Regions from separate parts of the Homo sapiens genome. Here region 1 is linked to region 2. The links come from fine-mapping of genetic effects on gene expression. A gene starts in region 2. The other region holds a variant in brackets. All regions are shown on one strand. Distances are from middle to middle.

Evidence for each region.
Region 1: its variant is fine-mapped to the expression of ZRANB1 in subcutaneous fat (FUSION, PIP 0.95).

The regions. Positions count from the first base shown.
Region 1 is chr10:124,981,961-124,990,299 of GRCh38, reverse strand. ZRANB1 (zinc finger RANBP2-type containing 1) reads right to left here. Exons shown (of 9, transcript NM_017580.3): 7 at 6,996-7,125; 8 at 6,612-6,841; 9 at 2,111-5,526. The coding sequence ends at 5,308. It overlaps CTBP2 (C-terminal binding protein 2), which reads left to right. Exons shown (of 11, transcript NM_001329.4): 11 at 602-5,983. The coding sequence ends at 782. Among named protein-coding and RNA genes, the nearest start is that of ZRANB1, 44 kb to the right of the region's middle. The variant C/T (reference allele first, on the strand shown) is at 4,015.
Region 2 is chr10:124,937,764-124,946,102 of GRCh38, reverse strand. ZRANB1 (zinc finger RANBP2-type containing 1) reads right to left here and starts at 3,980. Exons shown (of 9, transcript NM_017580.3): 1 at 2,796-3,980. The coding sequence starts at 3,609.

The DNA.
Region 1 (8,339 bases), 44 kb before region 2:
AGGCTGAGGCGGGCGGATCACGAGGTCGGGAGATTGAGACCATCCTGGCCAACGTGGTGAAACCCCGTCTCTACTAAAAATATAAAAATTAGCCGGGTGTGGTAGCGCACACCTGTAGTCCCAGCTACTTGGGAGGCTGAGGCAGGAGAATCACTTTAACCCAGGAGGCAGAGGTTGCAGTGGGCTGAGATTGCTCACGCCACTGCACTCCAGACTGGCGACAGAGTGAGACTCCATCTCAAAAAAAAAAAAAAAAACTATTAGCCAGGCCTGGTGTCTCTCGCCTGTACTCCCAGGACTCTGGGAGGCCTATGATGGGGCATCACTTGAGCTCAAGAGTTTGAGACCAGCCTGGGCAGTCTGGCAAAACCGCATCTCTACAAAAAAATACAAAAACTAGCTAGGCGTGGTGGCTCATGCCTGTGGTCGCCACTACTTGGGTGTCTGAGGTGGGATCACTTGAGCCCAGAAGGTCGGTCAAGGTGAGCCATGTTCATGTCACTGGGCTCCTGTCTCTTATGAAAAGGCCAGAAGTAGAAGAGCCAAGAGCTTGGCAACTCTGCCCTGAACTTACAAGGCCCTATTTCTGTGTGTTCCTTAGATATCCGCCAGGCATCGTGGGTGTGGCTCCAGGAGGACTTCCTGCAGCCATGGAAGGGATCATCCCTGGAGGCATCCCAGTGACTCACAACCTCCCGACAGTGGCACATCCTTCCCAAGCGCCCTCTCCCAACCAGCCCACAAAACACGGGGACAATCGAGAGCACCCCAACGAGCAATAGCAGAGAATGCCAGAAGGTAATCACTCAGATACACTTGGGACCAAGAGACAGTGAAAAATAGATGAACTAAGAGAAAAAGAATCGGATGGTCTTTGTAACTGATTCTGGACATATGCATCATTGATGTTGCAGTGTTGAAACTACAAGAGCTAGAAAACTGAAGATGTCGTCTGCTTACGGAAGCGCTGAAAGACTAGGATGTGATTTATTAACGACCAACTTCTGTTATTGTGTGTTAAGTTTTTCATCTGTGCATCAAATCACAAAAAGAATAAATAGAGCTTTTTCCTTTATCAGTCCCTTGGGCACAGCAGGTCCTGAACACCCTGCTCTACAATGTTGCATCAAGAGTTCAAACAACAAAATAAAAAATATTAAGAGGAAATCCCCATCCTGTGACTTGAGTCCCTTAAGTCTACAGGGGCTGGTGACCTCTTTTTGCTAATAGGAAAATCACATTACTACAAAATGGGGAGAAAACTGTTTGCCTGTGGTAGACACCTGCACGCATAGGATTGAAGACAGTACAGGCTGCTGTACAGAGAAGCGCCTCTCACATCTGAACTGCATACTGAGCGGGCAAGTCGGTTGTAAGTTCAGTAAAACCCTCTGATGATGCAAAAAAAAAAAAAAAAGTATTAAGTTTCACAAGCTGTTTGTACTCAAATATATTTTCTCAGTTTCAGATCCTCTGCTATTTTATTGAGTGGAAAGTCTTGAGCTAAAAGGGTTCAAGAAGAATAATGTTGCATTTCCTTATGTCTCAGGAAACACTTTTTATGGTAACTTGTCAGATTGTCTATGAACAAACCCACTTTTTTAGACATTGATAAAGTCTTCTTTTCTTCACGTGATATTTTATACAAGAACACTTCAGATGTATTAGATGTGACTGATTTTAACAAATCCTATTAGATTTGTATCAACTAGTTACATGTTCTATTCATAGTCTTTTGTGAATCATTGCCTTTTTGTTTAAAAAGATGGCCTATTTTGAGCCTTTGTATAGGTACATTCCTGTTTTTGTGACAAAAGAAAAACTTTAAAATTGTCCCAAACAGAAAAATAATGGCTATCAGAAGTATGTTTTGTTTTAGTGTGAGTTACCGTTACTGTATTTGTTTATTGTAAAGGTGGACATTTAGCGTTCAGTGCAGTTTTCAATAAAAAGTAATTAAAATTTGTTAAGTTCTGAAATTCAAGTACATCTCACTAATGTAAATGTTCTCTACTTGAGATGTTTAAGGCAATTGCATTGTCAATTAGCCAATTTCCAGCTCTTGTTACTACAGGGTTCCATAACCAGACTCAAGACCGCTGACAATTAATTACCTGTGATAACAAAAAGTTTAATTGAAAAATCAAAACCTCACACAAGTCCATCATTATCACGTCATGCCATCCTTAAGATGCAATGGTGGGTTAGTGCTAAATCAATTCAAAAAAAAACAAAGTTGCTCAACTTTTAGAGTTCTGACTTTAATCTACCCCAAAGCAAAATGACCTGGACCTGGTTCAAGGGAGGGAAGTGAACCTTGAAACTGTTTTGCCAATAACCTAACAAACAAAATGATATTTACAAAGAAGTGTTGCAAATAGTCCCATGAGTTAAGAGCTTGATTTAATGGATCTTCTTTTTAAATAGAATTAAACCTTTATACTAAAAGTATTTGCAAGTGTCAATTAAGTCCAACAATTCCAGGTATGAAACTCCCTCTGAGCTCTTCCTTATACTTCCCTTCCCAATTAAAACAAAACAAGAAAATCATGGTGTCTTAAAGCCTTTGGCTTGCCTGGCCTTGTCTGCTCACTCATTTTAAGGTGGTGGCCCCATCCCAACTCTACCATAAAAGTGTCTATTAACACAAGCTCACATGGAGAGAGACGGCGCTCATAGTTACTGACCTATTACCCCAGGGAACAAAAAGGTAGTTTAACGTCTTCGTAACCACTCATCAAAGAGGCAATGAAATATGCGTGAAAAGGAGGCCAAGCGCACACAGAATATCTTACCTTCACGAATATGTGAAGAAGTCTGGGACACGATGAACCTAAGAGTCAAAAACATAAAAAGGCAGGTCTGAATCCATGGTCCACCTGGGTTTTAATTATTAGATCTTGGTCGCCCAAACAAAAATTTATATATATATATATAAATTTGACCCCAAGGAAGAACAAGTCAAAACAAAATGCCACGCTCTGTTTGCTCTAGAAAAAGAACCATCAAGTCCACAGAGTGCAGGTATGACTTACTCTCCAGAGTCAGTCATTAATGTCTGTCACCTAGCCACGTATAATCATCTTTGAAAAAGGACTATATTCTATCTTGGGACAATAATTATGGCTGTTTTAATAGTTCAAGAGCATAATATAGCATTGATTTACCAAAATTTTTGGCCTTTAACAGCCAGTCTATGAAAACCATTTAGAGCCCCATTCCTGTCTGTAGCCTAGGAAATGGAACCATCTTTAATTCTTTCCCACAGGGAAGAATGCTGCACCTATCACACTATGTGGTCAGGGTCACTGATTGATAATAAATAAATAAATAATAGAGCGCTCAGGGGAAACAACACTCACCAGACCACAACACACAGTAGAAGCTAAGTGCTGAGCGTGTACTCTGGACAACGCTGGCTGCAATGCAGACTGCAATGGCTACATGCTTTTCCCTCTAACAATTCTCTTTGGCTTTTTCAATTGGGAGGGCAGATTTTGCTTAACAGGCAACTAGAACAGGATCTCTGCCCACTAAAAAATTATCCCTATACATAGAGAAATTACTACAGATGCTAAGTAGTCAGAATGCTAACATTTTCTACAAACTTGATTACTTATTGGCCAAAATGAAAGCAAACAGCCAATTTTTAACAACACATTCACCACTTGAAACAAACAGCAGCATTTACATTATATCAAAGATTCATTTCTACAGAATCGTACTAAAAAATCATTTTTCCTGCAAGATTTAGCATGCAGCAAAAAATGATCTTTTCATCCTGGGAACACCTTTTTACTGAGTTTTCGGGGGGAAAGAACTAAAGACATGACAGTTTTGTGGGTATTTTTCTATTTTTAGTATTCTGGCAGCAAATTTGAGGTTGTACACATTTCATTATCAACTAAACAAAACAAGAAGCAAGCAAATACTTTAAGGTTTTCACAGCCTTTTTCATCACAGGGAAGGAAAAAACTGTGTGTGTGTGTGTGTGTGTGTGTGTGTGTGCGCGCG[C/T]GCGCGTGCGTGTGTCGTCTTTCCAAATTCCTGGCCACATCAATAGTCTAGAAAGTGCTTATCAGGACACCAAATATTTCTGTGTTCCTGAGATAGGTCTGAAATTTTTACCCAGTATTGAATGTATACCTGAAGTGGTCAAATAATACTTCTTATAAAAAAGTTTTTCTACCTAAGATTATAGTTTTAACTTTAAATTAAAGAATGGCCACAATTAACCAACATGCAAAAATTCTCAGACTAAACACTGAGAAATTCTTCATACAATGCATTTGCCACCTTATTGCATTTTTAAAATCTTTATTCTGTAGTGAATTGGTATTCCCAATCTGCCTAAGCAAAGGCATGCCCTTCTAACAAGATTTGCTTAGAGCAGAGGTGATAGAAGGAAGAATCCGAAGACCCTCTGGCATGGCAATCTGGGAGCAGCACATTGTTGATGGAGTCCAAGTGAGCACATTTCACACAATTCATTTAGTGACAAGTGGGCTTGCTCCCTTTTCATCCAGGAAAAAAACTACTCACAGACCACTGCCCAGAATCTGGAATAAGAACCCTCATTTTAAGGTATTCTTCCCAACAAATAAATATCTAAATATTGAAAGGGGGCATATCAGAAAACTTAAAGACACAATAACCAAAACCAAAACCCTCTTCAAAACAAGTAAGCAATGTCTGTATTTAGTTCACTCTAAAACATTCTTAGCTTTTCTTGCAGTTTGTTCCTAAAAGATTTGATTGGGCACAAGAGGAACGAAATTATTAATAAAATAAAAGCTTATTTTTGTTTTGCTGTGGATAATCGGTACAAAACGTTTCCAGATCTGAGACTTAGATGGATCTTTTAAGGTGAAAGTAGAATGCCAGGTTCTACTGAAATAATATCTGAAAGGAACAAAGAGCCATTTGCCATGTGCTTTTTCTAAGTGCCCATGCTGGAAAAAATTTTCTCAATAATATGAAGATGCTGGTACAACTTTTCCTATTAAACAATGTCTTACACAACCACATGCGTTACATTTATAGACAGATTTACAATTTGGAAGGAAAAAAAGTTCTGTCTTAATAAAATTAGTTTTTTTTACAAACTGTAGTCCAACTAAAGTTCTCTGTCTCCTCACGCAGCAGAGGCATTATCTCCATAAGGTGTGTGTGGTCCAGGAAAACACTTCCCCGAGCAGATCCTGCCAGATTTGGTTCATTCCATGATGTCGACTCTGCTTGGAGCACCACACTAACTTTAGGGTCATTACAGATCTGATGCCTTGGTCTTCTGCTGTTTGATTTTTTTTTTCATTCATCTTCATCATCCTCATCTTCCTCTCCATCAGACAGGGATGTACACGGCCGGATCTGTCGGTAGCGGTCAAGCCATTTTTCTACCATCTGAGTGACCAGGGGGTGATTTCGCCGCCGAGAACTCTTCTGCATGGCAACCAGAACTCCCCCCTCCGTCACACAGCAGTCCAGCCACTCCCTGAGCAGTTTTTCTTGCTGTTCCTCATTACCTAGCTTTTGGAGGAATATGAAGACAAAGGGAAAATCATACAACAGATCAGAGACTTGGTAGGAATGTGACATGGAAACCTACAGCTGGTATGCTAACTCATGAAAAGGCCAAAGCAATCAACTTTTCACATGGTTTTGACCTCTTGGAAGTTTTGTGATTAAAGTCCAGTTTGCTCTGGTTAAATTTAAAAAGACATAAATGGGAAATTTCTCAGAAAAAAACTAAAGAGGAGCACACTAGAGGGTAATTTGTTAGATAAAATAAAAAACAAATGTCCTAATAAACTGATCCTGGCAAGCCACAGCTTCAAACACATGACAAGGTAAGTTTACTTAGTCAATTATGTACAAGCTGAAATTATACAAGTTACGGTCTATGAACTTTTTTTCTTCATGTTGTGATTATAAACGTTTTATAATTACTAGTATATTAAATAAAAGACCAATACTTTTATAAGAATACTGGCTTTCTGAAAGAGCGTTGTTTTTGTACCTTCTCACCACCTCCCCTGTCTGGTCTACAGCACCCTTTCACTCCCCTTCATCTACAATACCTGGTGTTCCTGCTCCTGCCATGCACCAGACCCCAAATGTTCCTCTTCTGGGTAAACTGGCCATTGGTTTACCACGTTATCCAGAGTAAAACCCAAAGCTTTAAAAAGCCTTCAATGAACTCCCCCCCATCCCTATCCTCTCTGACCTCTTCTCCCTTCCTCCCTCCCCCTGCCGCCTACCCTCTCTCTTTCCCTGTTGCTTCCCCTCTTAAACCACACTGGCCTTGCAATTCTTGGAACTCTGCTTTCAGATAAAAACTCACTTCTCATTCCCTAAAATGCCATATTTAAATCACAAACCTCATCTTTACTTTTTCTTCTTAAAACCCATCACCACCTTAAGTTCCTTGATGTGTCCCCATACAGCAGTTTTGAAAAGGTAAATTTCAAAGTATAGCTAGTACCTTCAGCAATTACTACCATCACATTCAGAAATTAAGTGATAGTGCAGATAAAACCACACCTGAAAGGCACTTCAGGCTGTTTCTGGTACAAGGTCACTACTAGAAATAGTTCATAGGAGAAACTGCTTACCTCCTGAGCAGAAAGGAAGTGCACATGGAGTAGCTTCCTTTCACTGTCAACCAGAGGCAAAAATGTGATGGTGACATCATCATCGGTATTGAGATTAGCACCAGCACCTCGGTTGCCATAGCCATCATTTTCCATGGCAACCAAAGCAGAGAAGTGGCCCCTCGTATAACCCAGAGCAATCGGACTTTTCCAACAAAAACTCTGTTCCCACAACAAAGGCAGATAAACACCTGGAAAGAGAGGGAAGAAAATCCCAACAGTCACAGGAAGAAAGAGCCACTCCCTCACTGCCCTTGTTCACATTCCCCTGTCCACTGCTCCTTCCTGACATCTGAGCCATTCCGTTCAAAGAAACTTGTAAAACGTTCCTGAATAATGGCTTACCTTGAAACCGAGTATATCCTAAAGTTTCTCCCCGGAAACTCTTGTAATATTTTACTCCATAAACTATAATTGGTCGTCTAAGAATATGTGCCAGTACAAAAATGTGCGTCTGCTCCAAGCTTGCTCCAGGCTGTACGAAACAAAACAAAAACTTAAAACATTTATTACCACTCCTGGAAAACTGATGTGTAAAAAACAATACTACCTCCCCTTCAGTATACTATCGCAGTTGGTTTTTAAGAAAGAAAAGATTGTCAAAGCAGCATTTGATTCCTCAAATAATAAATCCAGTAAAACTGTAAAAGAAATCTATAAAGGCTACATGCAAATATCATTTACCATCCAAACTCACAAATTATACAGATGTGCATACATACTTTGAAATATCCCTCACTACTAACTCTCCAACCTCAGGAACCAGAGATTCAGATAACTAAGGATGCTTTATTATCACATTCTCGTTAAGTTACTGTGAAAGCACTACCTACAACAAAGTCCTCCTGAAATAAATAAGTGAGCCTGTTTCATGCAAATGTAAATGGCAGTATCAACTAACTCGTGAATACTAATATTAAATGGGTCCATCATCGAGCTACAATGCATGGTGTGAGATACATGTCTCATGTAAATCAACCACTATGAATCCTGCCCAAATTGCCCAAAGATCGGGTACCTCCTTCTCTAAGTTCAAATGAACCATGGTGCTTTCTGCAAAAAAAAAGGAGTAGTTGTATATATATTTGTACTTTACAGTTTGGTATACTGAAGTGCTTCACAAAATAAAGCATGAAACCAAGAGTCTAAGGGACAACCCTACACAGTTCTGTGTCACAAGCAGCCTTCATTAATAAAAAGACGTTAGCAAACTTGCAAAACTTCATTCCCACATTAATCAGAAATCATTCCTATTGATGGTAATTAGTTCAGAGTAAGCTAAACTACCCTTTTCCTTTGCCTACATGACACAGGTATTGCCTCACCACAGGGAGCATTATGAAGATTGACAACTGGTTCCTCAGGGCCTGACAGATCAGCAACAGCAATGCAAGTACCTACACCAGTAATCTTAAGTGTCCCCAGAGACAGAACAGAGCTCACCTGGATAGGTACCATAGGCATCAAGCCTATGCTGCAGGAACGGAGAGCAATCCCAAGACTATCTACTGTATGTAACCGTCATAGCACAGCTTTCACTTTTTGATGTTTTTAATCATTCGATATAAAAACACGTTACTCTTCCTGCTCTGCAGTGAGGACTTGCGATGCTAATCTATACTTGCGATGCTCATCTATACTTGCGATGCTATTTATTTGATACACAGCAGTCATCACTAGAACCCAAGT
Region 2 (8,339 bases):
AATGCAAAGAGATGGGCCGGACCCAGTGGCTTACCCCTGTAATCCTGGCACTCTGGGAGGCTGAGGTGGGTGGATCACTTGAGCACAGGAATAAGATGCCAGCCTGGGTAACAAGGTAAAACCCCGTCTCTCCAAAAAAAATACAAAAATTTGCCAGGCGTGGTGGTATGCGCCTGTAGTCCCAGCTACCCAGGAGGCTGAGGTGGGCGGATGGCTTGAGCTTAGGAAGTCAAGGCTGCAGTGAGCCATGATTGCAGCACTGCACTCCAGCCTCGCGACCCTGTCTCAAAAAAATAAATAAAATGCAAAGAGGTACAAGGATGGCTAGTCGTCTAGTCAAAAGTAGTAAGGATATGTAGAAAAAGGCAGGACCAAGAAGAAATAATGTCATAAAGACAAACATGTTGATTCATCTAACTTGTGTGTTTCAAGGAAAGAAAATATTTCAAATCAGGTGTTCTTATCCTGAGATCCACTGACTTGAAGCAACCGGGGGTTGAAATGAAGCCCTGATTCCTAAAGGATTCTATGACCTTTAGTGAGGTTTAGTGACCTTCACTGTGAGGTTAAGAACCGTCACAATGAAGTCTAGTTCATTTTCATCTATAAACCTACATGTACTATAACACCACCTTGTAGTCCAAGTATTCATAGTACACTACTCCCTGAAAAAAAAAAAAAAAAAAAAAAAAATGATTTTAAGACTGTTCCAAAGGCATACAAGCAATTAAAAGACAATCACACCCAACATAAAAGCTCACAGATATGTAAAGATTCCATTTATATGAATATCCAGAATAGGTAAATCCACAGACACCAAAAGCAGACTGGCAGTTATCAAGGGTTAGCGGGTAGGGGTAGGGGGCAGTAACTGCTTAATGGGTACATAGTTTCCTTTTGGGATGATGAAAATGTTCTGGAACAACACAGAGGTAGTGGTTACACAATGTGAATGCACTAAATGCCAAATGAGTTGTTCACTTGCAAAACGGTGAATTTTTATGTTAAATCAATTTGATCTCTAAGGAAACTAATAACAAAACCCTTTTGTATCTCCTGTTTAAATTTTTTTAACTGACAATCATACTGTATGTTGCCCCTCAATTTGGAGCAGAAAAATCAGAGGAATAAAATGGGACAACACAGACAGAAGATAGCCCGGTATGTTTTCATCCCCTCATCCTCAGGATGGGAGGAAACTAGAACTAAGACTTGCTAAGTGCCTACTAAGTCTGGAGGTCAGAAGGATTCATCTGCTGGGATATTCTTTTTTGCCAGAACAAAGCTAAAATTGAAAACTCAGGATTTCAGCTGGGCACAGCAAATTATGCCTATAATCCCAACACTTTAGGAGGCTGAGGTGGGAGAATCGCTTGAGCCCAGGAGTTCAAGACCATCCTGGGCAACATAGGTAGACCCCCATCTTTACAAATAATAATTTAAAACAATAGCAGGGCATAGTGGTACATGCTAATGGGGAGTCCCAGCTACTGGGGAGGCTGAGATGGCAGGTCACTTGAACCCAGGAGGTTGAGGCTGCAGTGAGCCATGATTGCATCACTGCCCTCTAGCCTGGGTGACAGAGTGAGATCCCATCTTGGGGCGGGGGGGGGGGGGGAATGATATATATAATTTAATTTTAAAACTCACGATTTCTTGGAAATCAATTCCTAGGACTCACAGGTTCATACACCTAAACTTTCCATATTCTTGGGCTGTACCCAGAGGGATAAATAAAAGAAATTGGTACTGAGGGAAAACATACAGCTAAGGTATAGTTAAAGCTTAGCTATTGTTCCACACAAAGTTTAAACTTAGTAATCATTCAAAATTTCCCTCATAAGACCAAATGTCAAAGCAAGCAGCCCATCCAAATAATTTAATAAAAATCAAACATCTAATCTACTCAAAAAAAAAATACTGAAGACTCAAGTCACTGCTTTTGTGAATTACATCACAATTAACTCACAAGGTCAAGAACTGAAGAAAAACTCTGCTCTCCTATGTCTCTGTCCTTTAACAGCATTTCCTGAGGAAAATGTCACAATACATATGAACCATAACTTGAAGTATGGAATCAGCTGGCTACATGTAATCAGTTCCATAAAGTTTGCAAACATTTACTACATGACATTCATGTTAAATTAACACCAGTATTTTCAAGGTCAATATGTTTGTTCAACTTCTTGGAGTCACACATTTTTGTGGTATTTTTAACATCTGACTAAAGCTTCTATCATCACAAGATGCTCACACTGTTTACAAATACTTGGAAACAGCAGCTGGTGTTCCTCAGTTACATCTTGTTACAATAAACAGAGTAGCAGTTTTAAAGTCCAGGTATATATTTTACTGCTGATGTGTAAAAACTTTGCTTTAACTTAAACGTTTCCACTGCCCCCAGTAATGGAGAGACATGAACACAATTAATTGTGGGCAATTTAGTACAAAGTTACGACAAGATCACAAATACACAAATTTTTATGTATGCATACTTGAAAGTACAGCTATCGTGCTGAATGAATCAAATGCTAGTGACTTTGCGCATATATATATACACACACACACACACACTCACATTTTTGCATGTGCGTGGAGACACAGTCTCACTATGTTACCCAAGCTGGAGTGCAAGTGCTATTCACAGACCGATCATGGCATACTACAGCCTCAAACTCCTGGTTTCAAGCAAGTGGCTAAGACCACAAACGTGTGTCAGCGCACCCAGCTCTTTTCATATCATTTTTACTACCTTTTCCCATCCCACGCAAAAAATGCAGAATACAGAAACTTACCCACACAAGCATTGAGGAAGAGCCAATCAGTCTTTTTCATCCTGTTTTTAATTTGCTTTAGTTTTTTAAAGTCTACTTCAAGTTCCTCCTTGCTTCCCACAGCACCAGCCAATTCAATCCTCTGAAAATCCATTTTCACTTCAGAGTCCCGCTTCGTAGCAGGAGGTGATCTCCTTTGGCTATTACCACTACTGCAACTTCCCCTCCATCGAGCTCTGTCTTGCTCATTTATTATTGAAGAAGCCTCTTCAGTCTCTGCCAATTCTATTGCTTCAATGTTATTAGGTCTGGGATGATCACAAACAACACATCTTTTAGCCTTGGCCCAGTTTTCATATGTGCAAACAGAGCAAGTCCAGTGCTGTGTCCTAGTGTTCAGTTTATTTCTATCATTGTATTCCTCACAAGGATCAACAGAAAAAGCAACTGGTCTTGAGCCAGATCCTGAGGACTGAGGAGATTCTGTAGGACTCCTGGTCCTACGTTGGGATAAGCACTGGGTACATCTGATTGCTCTTGGCCAGTTCAAATATGTACACATGTGGCATGACCACTTATTTGCATTTTCCATGCTATACGAAGATTTCACCCTTGGTCTTGCACTAGAGTCTGGACATATCAAAGGACTACTTCCTCCTTCGGTGCTGGAAGGATCCCAATCTCTACCAACATCACTTGAACCACTTTTAAATGGATCTTCTGTAATAATTGTTCCACTAGGTCTTTGGGCACGACACATAGTACACTTGATTGCAGATGGCCAGTTTTCATACGTACAATATTCACAAGCCCACTTAATTCCACGTTCTGACATTGTGCACTTCTTGAAGTGAGCTGTGTCAGGCAGGAAGCTATAAATAATTAGGACATGGTTATTAAAATAACTACATTCCACCTCCAAAAATACGCTGCCCAAAAAGCAAGTCCTTCAACCTACAAAATATAAATTTCTCAAAAGATGCATGCAACATTTCGACATTGAATTATCCTAATTTTCTTTTTTAATTTCCATAGAAACACTGGAGATAAATTCTCAAAGAAAAAATCTTAGACCCTGGGATTTAATAAAACTGAACTTTGGAATGCAAAAGAGATAGGCAGGAGATATAACGAGGTTTGATCTAAGAAGGATGAGATTAACGGGAAGCCACTAATAGAAATGTTTAATTTCAGGGAGGCCATCACATCAATTTAGAAAAGTAACCAATAGTTTAAAGAGACAAAGGTAGAGGAAACAACACAAACTAAAAAATAGCTTAAACACATAACCATTCTCAAATTATGAACACAGATTATGATTCATGAATTCAGAAGATCAAGCAACGTCTATTTTATCATTCTCGCTAAGGGAGAAAAGCAACTTAAAATGCTAATTATCCACTGTTCTTAATTAGCACAGGTAGTAAAGAAACATGTTGAGAAGTAATGGCTACAATTAACAAAGTAACATTATGAAATAGGTAGTTCCTTGATAATCTGTAGCCTCAAAATCTAGTTCTATCTGGAGTAAAAAAAAGAAGACTGTACTGGGGAAAATTAAATCTGTGGAAGGTCACTGAAATAACCAGTAGCATAATCATTCCAATATAATTGTGAATGTTCATAATTAAAATATTTTAAATTTTGAATATTTAAAATATACTCAAAATCTAATTCATGGCCGGGGGCAGTAGCTCAAGCCTATAATCCCAGCATTTTGGGAGGCTGAGGCGGGTAGATCACAAGGTCAGGAGTTCAAGACCAGCCTGGCCAAGATGGTAAAGCCCCGTCTCTATAAAAATACAAAAATTAGCCGTGCATGGTGGTAGGTGCCTGTAATCCCAGCTACTCAGGAGGCTGAGGCAGAGAACTGCTTGAACCCGGCAGGCAGAGGTTGCAGTGAGCTAAGATCGCACCACTGCACTCTAGCCTGGGTGACAGAGTGAGACTCCATCCCCTGCCCCCCAAAAAATCCAATTCATATTTAAAAGATATTCACACTACTTAAAAGATTTCTAGGATTCAACAATGGGCTAACACTACACTATAATGAAGAAAGACTTCATAATTTAATGGCAACTAATTCATAAATGAAGCAACTTACATAACAAATTTAATTTTTTTTTTTTTAATGGCTTGAATTTAGACACTGGCCACTTTTCCTAAATACTTTTATCAACTCAGTATCATCCCAACACCTATTTTTCACCCGGAAAGAGAAAGAAATCCTAGGCAGAGTATAGAAGCTTTGCTCTCTCTTTCTCAGGGATTTTTCCTGAACCTAGAGGGTTAAATCTTTTGTTTGTTTGTTTTTTTGTTGTTGTTGTTTTCATTTTTGTTTTTTTGAGATGGAGTCTTGCTATGTTTTGCCCAGGCTGGAATGCAGTGGAGTGGTGCAATCTAAGCTCACTGCAACCTCCACCTCCCAGGTTCAAGCGATTCTCCTGCCTCAGCCTCCCAAGTAGCCGAGATTACAGGTGCATGCCACCATGCCCGGCTAATTTTTGTATTTTTAGTAGAGATAGGGTTTCAGCATCTTGGCCGGGCTTCTCTTGATGAACTCCTGACCTCGTGATCCACCCACCTCGACCTCCCAAAGTGCTAGGATTACAGGCATGAACCACCACGCCTGGCCTAAATCTTTCACTTTTGAAGTATACTGTATTATGTTCCTGCCTGCCAAGTCCATACACCATTTATAGTGTGAACTCTGCTAAGAAGAAAAAAAAATCACTATAAGAAAGTATACTACTTAATAGCTAAAATAAAAACCACACTTACTAAGATTTTAGTTCCCACGCTATAACCTCCACCTTGCACATGATTAGAATAAAAGTACGGTTTGCAAATCAGATCAAAGACAAGATTCCGTCTTCATGCTGGCTCAGAATTCTGACTTCCTCAGGAGATACTGCAAAACGTGATAAGTGGTTCTGTCTGACTGAATAGCTATTCCTGTAAAGGAGACCAAAACTGAATTTCACTTGAAGCCTGCTACTTTAGCTAAAAGATTTTTAAGGCTTTATTTTTATCAATTCTCTATTTTAACCCTACTCACTTATTTTAACAATGGACAACTATATTTAGAATTTTAATTTAACAAAACAATAAAATTGGCTAATCAACTGGGCTGGTCAGCCAAATTAAACATGGATGAGACATTTTTCTATATAACCTTAACCCTGTGCTGTGTACACAGTTCTAATATTACTATTAATTTGGCAGTGCTAAGTTAATTCCTACCTGTATTACTCTATTACTAAAAGGGAAAAGATGATAAAATCCAAAAAAGTAGAAAAAGCAAAATAATTGCTTATATTTAGCTATGAAACCACCTTCAGCAACTGCATTTTTTTCCCTGATCCAAGTAATATAAAATTATCTTGTTTAAATTTTTAAATTTAGTTTGTATAATGATTACTTACAAACTGATAGCAGCCCAAAAATGTGTGGAAGAGCAGAGAACTATAATGATATAACCATCCAGAAAGTAGACAATACAGATTTAATGGCAATTTTCATACTCTTTAGGCAGATTCTTTTAGTTTCTCGGGAATGAAATATAAGTTACTTGCTCATGCTACTGGAAATTAAAATGAGCATGTAGAAACTTATTAACAAGATAAATGCCATAATGAACATATATCCAGGGCTACTCTAAGTAATTTCAATATATCTTTTAAAATATTCACATTCAAAATCCATACTTGTTTTGATAAGTCTTACTATGTTTGTAGGTGCAACTAAACAGCCCGTAACCTTATGTTATCTTAGCTAATCTTCATGTAACTAATATGCTGGCACAATATATTTAAATGTCCAGGCTGATTTAAAAAACAAACAAAAAACTGTCATAAAAAATAATCACTGTCATAAATGCCTGGTAAAATAATGGACAGACAGCTGCCTAATTAGCCCACCAACCTCTGAAAATCCAGGTAACTAAGCAATACCAAAACCAAGCTCAAGAGTTTTGAGATGTGCCTTATATTAGATAATAAGCACAGTGGCTCAAGTCTTTAATCCCAGCACTTTGGGAGAATGAGGTGGGAGGATCACTTGAGTCCAGGATTCAAGACCAACCTGGGCAACACAGCAAGACTCCATCACTACAAAAAAGGAAAAAAAAAAAAAAACACGATTTTTGTTGTTGTTGAGACAGTCTCACTTTGTCACCCAAGCTGGAGTGCAGTGGCACAATCTTGGCTCACTGCAGCCTTCACTCCCAGGTTCAAGTGAATCTCCTGCCTCAGCCTCCAGAGTAGCTGGGACCACAGGCGCATCCCACCATGCCCAGCCAATTTTTTTATTTTTAGTAGAGACGGAGTTTCACTGTGTTGGCCAGGCTGGTCTCAAACTCCTGGCCTCAAGTGATCCACCTGCCTCAGCGTCCCAAAGAGCTGGCATTACAGGCGCGAGCCACTATGCCCGACCAAAAAAAAAACTTTTTTTTAATTAGCCAGGTGCAGTCGCCTGTGCCTATAGTCCCAGCTACTCAGGAGGCCAAGGAAGGAGTATCATTTGAGTACAGGAGTTCAAGACTACAGTGAGTTATGATTGTGCTACTGTGCTTCAGCCTGGGATGACAGAGCAAGGCTGTCTCAAGGAAAAAAAAAAAAAAACGTAATGATGTACAGTGTTCACTCTGAGAGAACTTGAAACATTGCAGGAATGTTGTTTAGTAACTGCAAGGTAAAATTCATTGAAGAGTGGCTAGGTGCTCACGCCTGTAATCCCAGCACAGGAGGCCTAGGTAGGTGGATTGCTTGAATCCAAGAGTTCGAGACCAGCCTGGGCAACATGGCAAAACCACATCTCTTCAAAAAATACAAAAATTAGCCCAGGGTGGTGGCACATGCCTGTAGTCCCAGCTACTCAGGAGGCTGAGGCAGGAGGATCGCTTCAGCCCAGGGGACTTGAGGCTGCAGTGAGCCATGATCACACCATTGCACTCAGAGTGAGACTTTGTCTCAAAAAAAAAAAAGAAAAGAAAAAATTCATTGAAGATTATCTGAGACAGCCATTTCTACCTGTGGTAATTAGTAAACAGCACTGAACAGTAAGGATAACATCAACTGAACTATGTGTTTTTTTGCAGTATTACAAAGAAATTAACAGAGTACACTTTTTCCAGATGTCAAAACATTCCAAAAAGTACATAAAATTATTTCCAAAGTAGCCAGCTCTAAAAGTTAATACTCTACCTTGAAATAAAACTTACCAAATATCACTTTAAGTATTAAATATATTCATACGCCCAAGTAAATTTAGTTTACAAGTTTAATTTTGCATGCAAAGCAGATTTGCAAATTCTATCCAAGGACTCAAACTTCAATTAATTGGTAAAATAAAACCACAATAAAATCAACATAATCTAGGCCTTCTTTAAGGAGAACGGGACAAAACTGCTACTCTTAAGACAAATATTCCTTGGTTCAAATGCAATACCAACAGTTCCCATCCTGTGGACCAAGGAGACCAGGAATCCATTTGTGCATCAAGCTCTGCCTGTAGAATGAATAATGTCTCTAAATATATCAACCATTTACTACTACTAAATTGACA